Homo sapiens: one gene and its partner. The protein of the gene in region 2 purifies or fractionates together with the protein of the main gene of each other region. This does not show direct contact. Each region holds a gene or a part of one and is shown on either strand. Other genes may lie near its edges.

Evidence for each region.
Region 1: the proteins of DDX24 (region 2) and LCN1 purify together in Homo sapiens (affinity purification with mass spectrometry, with the first as the bait; one large-scale study listed by BioGRID). This does not show direct contact.

The regions. Positions count from the first base shown.
Region 1 is NC_000009.12:135,524,419-135,527,126, reverse strand, and holds the end of LCN1 (lipocalin-1 isoform 1 precursor), read right to left. Parts: exon of another isoform or gene 2,625-2,708; coding exon of another isoform or gene 2,298-2,624; coding exon 2,196-2,297; coding exon of another isoform or gene 2,020-2,195; exon of another isoform or gene 1,996-2,019; coding exon 1,970-1,995; coding exon of another isoform or gene 1,969-1,969; intron 784-1,968; coding exon of another isoform or gene 610-783; 3' UTR 587-609; downstream 1-586. UniProt on the Homo sapiens protein: Could play a role in taste reception. Could be necessary for the concentration and delivery of sapid molecules in the gustatory system.
Region 2 is NC_000014.9:94,060,703-94,064,202, forward strand, and holds part of DDX24 (ATP-dependent RNA helicase DDX24), read right to left. Parts: intron 1,920-3,500; coding exon 1,395-1,919; intron 365-1,394; coding exon 211-364; intron 1-210. UniProt on the Homo sapiens protein: ATP-dependent RNA helicase that plays a role in various aspects of RNA metabolism including pre-mRNA splicing and is thereby involved in different biological processes such as cell cycle regulation or innate immunity.

The DNA of each region.
Region 1 (2,708 bases), on a different chromosome or scaffold from region 2:
TGTGCCAGGTGGGACCTCTGGTGGCTGCCCCCAAGCTGGGAACTTGCTGTCCCAAACCTACCCAGGCACAGAGAGGGACAGCGTGGAGCCAGGCTCTGGGGGCAGTGCTGGTGTGGCTCCCCGGAGGACAGGACTGGCTTCCCCGGTGAGCTCAAGCCCGAGCCACACCCTGCCTTGAGCTGCTGTCCCCTCCCCCCACGTCCAGCCTCACGGACTCAGCATCAGTGCTGAGGGCACTGGTGGCTCTGCCCAGTCCCCTCTGGGTGGCAGCTGCGCTTGGTCCCAGGCCTTCCGGTCTTACTTGTGCAGGACCGAGGAGTGGAGCCCTGCCCCCACCCCCGCAACCCCTACAGCCTGAGCTCAGCGGGCGGCTGACCTGCAGGAAGCACCCCGGGACCTTCAGGCCCAGCCTCCAGCACACACCCCCCTGCTAGGCCCCTCCCACTGTTGGCCTGTGGCACCCACCAGGGAGAACTGGGTCCAGGCTGGTTCCCTGTCCTTCCTCCTGCTTCCCACCCAGTCCCTGCACCCAAAAGAGCACCCAGCCAGCACCTCTCACCCCGAGGGACCCCACAGACAGGCGGAGTCACTGGGAACTGCTGAAGCTCTTTATGGAGAACCAGGAGAGGGGGCGCAGGGCAGGGGGAAGGCGGGGGGTGGTAGGAAGGGGTGCAGCCAGCCGCGTTCTGCAGGGGTGGGGAGCTTTTTCCATGTCCCTGTGAATGACGGAGGTGCTGGATGGTGCCGTCCTTGGGCTGCTGAGGAGCCAAGGTGTCCCCTGCCCTGGAAAGGGGGGGAGGGTGAGTGAGGCCAGGACAGCAAGGGTGGGAGGGGGATGCAATGTGGGGGCGCATGTGGGCTCTTGGGTGCTGCAGTGTGGGGGCCCATGTGAGCTCTCAGGGGCATGGTGTGGGGGGCACACGCTGCACTCTTGGGGGCTGTGATGTGGAGGGCACATGCAGGCTCTCGGGGGCTATGGTGTGGGGGGCACAGCAGGCTCTCAGGGGTGATGGTGTGGGGGGCACATGTGGGCTCTCAGGGGCATGGTGTGGGGGGCACATGTGGGCTCTCGGGGGCTATGGTGTGTGGGCACATGTGGGCTCTCGGGGGCTATGGTGGGGGTACACACTGGGCTCTTGAGGGTTACGGTGGAAGGCACATGCGGGCTCTCGGGGGCGATGGTTGCGGGGGCACGTGCTGGATCTCAGAGGCAATGGTGTGGGGGACGTGCACCGGGCTCTAGGGGGCTATGGTGTGGTGGGCACATGCGAGCTCTTGGGGGCGATGGTGTGGGGGGCACACACGGACTCTTGGGGGCTGCAGGTGGGGGCTCCAGCCTCTAGATTGGAGCGGATGGAGCAGGGACCACCCCCGCAGGCTGCTGACAGAGCTCCCTGCTGAGTGAAGTGGCATCAGGGTGACTGCAGGCCAAGGGGAGGGTGCGGGAAGGACAGCGATGCTGTCCAGGATTCTGGCTCTGCCCACACCTGGGCAGGTGACCTTGGGCGAGTCTCCAAACTCTGGTCCCCTTGTGCAGCCAGCAAGGGGCCCATCTGACACAGCGAGCACAGGCACGCCTGCCACTTTGCTGAATCTTTGAGCAACTTATCGGGTAAGTGGAGTCACAGGCATGGCCGAGGGTGAGGGGTGCTGAGGAGGAACCCGAATCTCCTGCCTGCTCCTGCCCATGTGACTGGGGGGTAGACACCGTCTCCACCAGCAGCCAGCAAAGGCGGGCTCAGCGCTGTGGGCTTCCCAGCTGCCCAGGAGTCACACCCAGGGCAAGAACGGAGTCTGACGCCCGAGCGTGGGCAGCTCAGGAGCAGAGCTCCCACCTGCCTGACCTACGTGGGGCATCTCCCACCCAGGTAGGAGTGGGATGGGTGGGAGAGACCCCATGGCCTCTGGAAGCACCACTGAGCCCCAGAACTGGATTTTCTCAAATGTCCTCTAAAGCTGTTCACTCACCCTAATCGCTCCCTGGAGAGCAGGTTTCTGCAGGAAAAGGAAGCACAGGCGTTAGGAGACCCCAGGAATGCAGTCAGGACCGGGGCCCCTCATCAGCCACCAGCTCCACCACCCCAGGAAGGACAAAGCCAGAATTAGACGCAGCACAGTTATGCGCCCGTGCAATGCAGCTCTGCTGATGTCCCCACGCGGGGACATGGGGGGCTCTGCAGGGCCATGCCTCCTACCGCTCTGCCTGGGGATGAGGATGCTCTCCGTGCTGAGTCCGCGGGCTCCTGCGGCTTTCTCAAAGTCCTCCAAGGCTTCCAGGTTGTTCTTGGGGTCTCTGCCTGTGGGTGCCAGGACGAGATGTGGGTGCTCGAGGCAGCACTGGGCCGACGGCACCCCATCCCAGTCTGGAGGCCTGAGCTGGGCTGGGGAAGGGGACCTCGCCCACCGTGGGGGGAATTGAACCCAGAGGCCCTCAGGCTGGCAAAGTGGGACCAGGGTGCCGTGCACGGCTGAGAAGGCTCCTGTGGCAGCAGAACCGGGAGAACGGGAAGGGCTCTCCATCCATCCCTGAGCATCTCCCGGAGTGAGGATGGACGGCACGACAGGCCCACCCTGGAGGAAGCGCCTCTCCCCTTGGGGGCACCAGGATCCCAATCCTCTGTCATTCGCACACCCCTGGCTCCAGGGAGAACTCAGGAGCCTTCATGGGCCTCGTCCTCTGACAGGGACAGCACTGATGAGTCACCATC
Region 2 (3,500 bases):
CACACACACACGTACACACCCCACTACCACCACCACCATCAGGCCCTCAACTAATCTCCCTCATGCACTCTTGGCTTTCTAAAGGCCAGGGTCTGGATGATACCACACCATAGCATTCTGCGATGAGAAGAAGGCATTGCCCACACCATGTCACCTAAGGCTCATTTCAGAAAAGGCAGTGAGGGGGAAAAGAGAAGTGCCATCTATTACCTGAGCTGCCGAAGGTTCCTCAAATGATAATGCTTTTCTTTAATTAATTCCCACAGCCGGCCTGGAGTAGCAACCACAATCTCAGGACGACGGTTCAGCATCCTCTGCTGTTTCTGCGTGGACATTCCACCAACCAAAATAGCAGTTTTAATTCCTATGGGACAGAAAACATAAGGGACACTTATTCAATCTGGGTGATCATTTTCTTACATGGCTGACACAGGCACCCCAGATTAGCAGAGACAGACATCAGCACAGTGTAATGCCCTAGAGCATTGCTAAAAGAGCAGGCCTGGCCAGACTGTTGACGCCACTCCTAGAGGGCTTACCAAGTCTTCTGTGATCTGAGCTCTACTTCTTCAGCCTCATTTCTTTTCTACTCCCTCCCCTCCAACCACACCAAAGGGGCTGAATTTGAACCCAGGTATGCTTACCTCCAAAGCTCTGGGAAAACGGAGCACTGGGGCACCATAATGCTGGGAGGAATATGACCTGCAGCTGTGCTACACCTCTCCTAGGAAGCCCTTCCATTCCCTCAGTTAGAATTATTCTGAAAGGTCCACTAATGCCCTGTTGTTTTCGTCTCTGGTGCAGAAATTCTCATAGTATCATGTGGGTAAAGGGCTTAGCAATAGTAACAACTTGGTAATTAATTGCTGCTTTCATTATAAAATTAAGATTCCCAGAGTGAAGCCCTTCCCAGAGTGAATTCCCTGAGAGAATTAAATCCTAATAGCTTAGAGCAGGGATCAGCCAACTTTTTCTGAAAGGGTCACTAGTGAACATTACTGACCTCATAGGCCAGATGGTCTCTGTCACAACTATTAACTCTACTCAACTTCACCTTTGTAGTACAAAACCAACCACAGACAATATAAAACCAAATGGGTGTGGGTGTGTTCCGGCAAAACTTTATTTATAAAACCAGACAGTTTGCTAATCCCTGCCCTGAGCATCTACTGTATCCAATAAATTTCCTATGCATCCACAATGGCACCAACCATGTATTATCCTTGAGGGAACTGAAAAAATGTCACTATATCAATTTTCTGTAGGGCTTAATTGTCTGGCTTATAGATGAGAGTGGCTTACCCTAGAGGGCAGGAGCCACAGCTCATTCATCTTTACCAACGAGCATTTGGGATTTACCTAGAAAATATTTATTAAATGGAACTAAACCTCACCTGTAAACCTGGCCACAGCATCAATGTGCTGTTTGACCTGGACGGCCAGCTCTCGAGTGGGAGTCAGAACCAGTCCAAGCAGAGGACGCTTTGGATATGCCTTACAGGTGGCGCTTTTGTCATCCAACTCCTGTTTTAGATTTCCAGTCTGCTCTTTATCAAGATTTTCCTCCTCATTCTCATTCTGTTTGGGAACAGGTTTCTCCCTGATCAGGGAAGAAGGCCCTTCACCAGCATCATCGTCACCAAAGAGCAACGCCTGGTCTGAGACAGTGCCTCCAGTCTTGGCTCTGGCCTCGGCTGCAATATCACTGGGCAGTGCTTCACTCTCAATTACAGTATCGTCAGGCAATGCATCAGACTCAGCTTCAGCCTTGCCTGGTGATCTAGTCTCAGCTCCGGCCTCAGTTCTGGTCTCTCCAGGTGGTGCTTCGGTGTTACTTGGAGGAGGGGCAGCATTCCTCTTCTGCCACTGCAACACCGCATGAATCATTGGGATGGCAAAGGCAAGAGTTTTCCCACTTCCTTAAAAGTAAAAAAACAAAACAAAGTAAAAACAGTGTGAATCAACAGATGAACATACTTTAGTCTGGAATTCATTCTTTTGCATAGAATAAGGTAGCCAAGTGCCACCCTGACCGACCCAAAGCTCCTCCACTCTACACAGATTTCCCCAGAAGGAACCAGAAGGCACATGTAAATTAGAACCCGAGGAAAAGTATGGCAGGCTAGCACTGAGGTCTTAGGTCACCAGTAACGAATTACAAATGTCCAAGAAATGAAACAATAAAGAGAGAAAGGGCAAGTTTTGGGTGTATGTGTTGTTTCTGTGAGGAGCAGGAAACAGTAATCCATACAATACTTTCCCAAGACTTTTCTTTGGTGAGAAAGGAGTAAAAGAAAATTTTCTTAAGTTTTCAGAAAATGTAAATATAAAACTTTTGTCTATGCCTGAACATTTTCAAACTGGCCTTTGAATGTACACAGAGTCCAAATCATCTGGGTGGTCAAAACAAAACATCTCAGGCTGAGAATTTAAAGAAGTTCCAAAGTGATAATGCCCTAGGCAGAAGCCAATAAATGCTTTCTCAAGGGAGAAACCATTACCATACATCTCCAAAAATTTTCACAATTTTCAAAGGAAATAAGCAGCTCTCAGTAAAAAATAACCACACACACAAAAATAAGATACTATAAGGAAAAAAGAGAGCAAAAACAGACACATGAAACTTTTGATAAGAAGAACAGCAGACTTATCAGAAACAATGAAAAGCCAGAAGACAGTGTAGCAATATTTTTTATTTGAATGCCTAAAAATAAAACCCTGACAATCTATAACCCTACACCCACTCAAAACAAAATGTGAAATAAAGACTTTAGGCATATAAAAGCTGAAATAATTCACCAGCAGCAAATGTAAGCTATCAGAAATATTAGTCTTTCATGCAATAGCAAAGATAACATAAAATGAAAATCTGGATGTACCCAAAGAAATAAAGAGCAACCGAAACAGTAACTACGTAGGTAAATATTTAAAAACTTCTTTTTATGGCCAGGCATGGTGGCTCATGCCTGTAATCCCAACACTTGGGGAGGTCTAGGCGGGAGGATCAAGACCAGCCTGGGCAACATAGTGAGACTCCCATCTTTAAAAAAATTTGCCAGGCATGGTGGCACACTCCTGTAGTCTTCGAAACTTGGGAGGCTGAGGCAGGAGGATTGCTTGAGCATGGGAGTTTGAGGCTGCAGTGAGCCATGATCGTGCCACTGCACTCCAGCATGGGTGACAGAGGGAGATACTGTCTCTAAAAACAAACAAAAAAACAAAACCCCTTATTTTTCTTATTTAAACATCTTTAAAAATAATTGTTTAAAGCAAATATAATAAAAATGTATTCTAGAATCTCTAACACATATGAAGTATACAACAAAAAGCACAAAGGAGGGGAGAAATGGAAAATACTCTTGTAAGGTTCTTACATTGTATGCGAAGTAGTAAATTACTTGAGGGTAAACTATAATAAAAGATATATACTATAAACCCCAAAGCAATCACTAAAAAGACGTTAAGAATTATAGCTAATAAGACAACAAAAAAGATAAAAT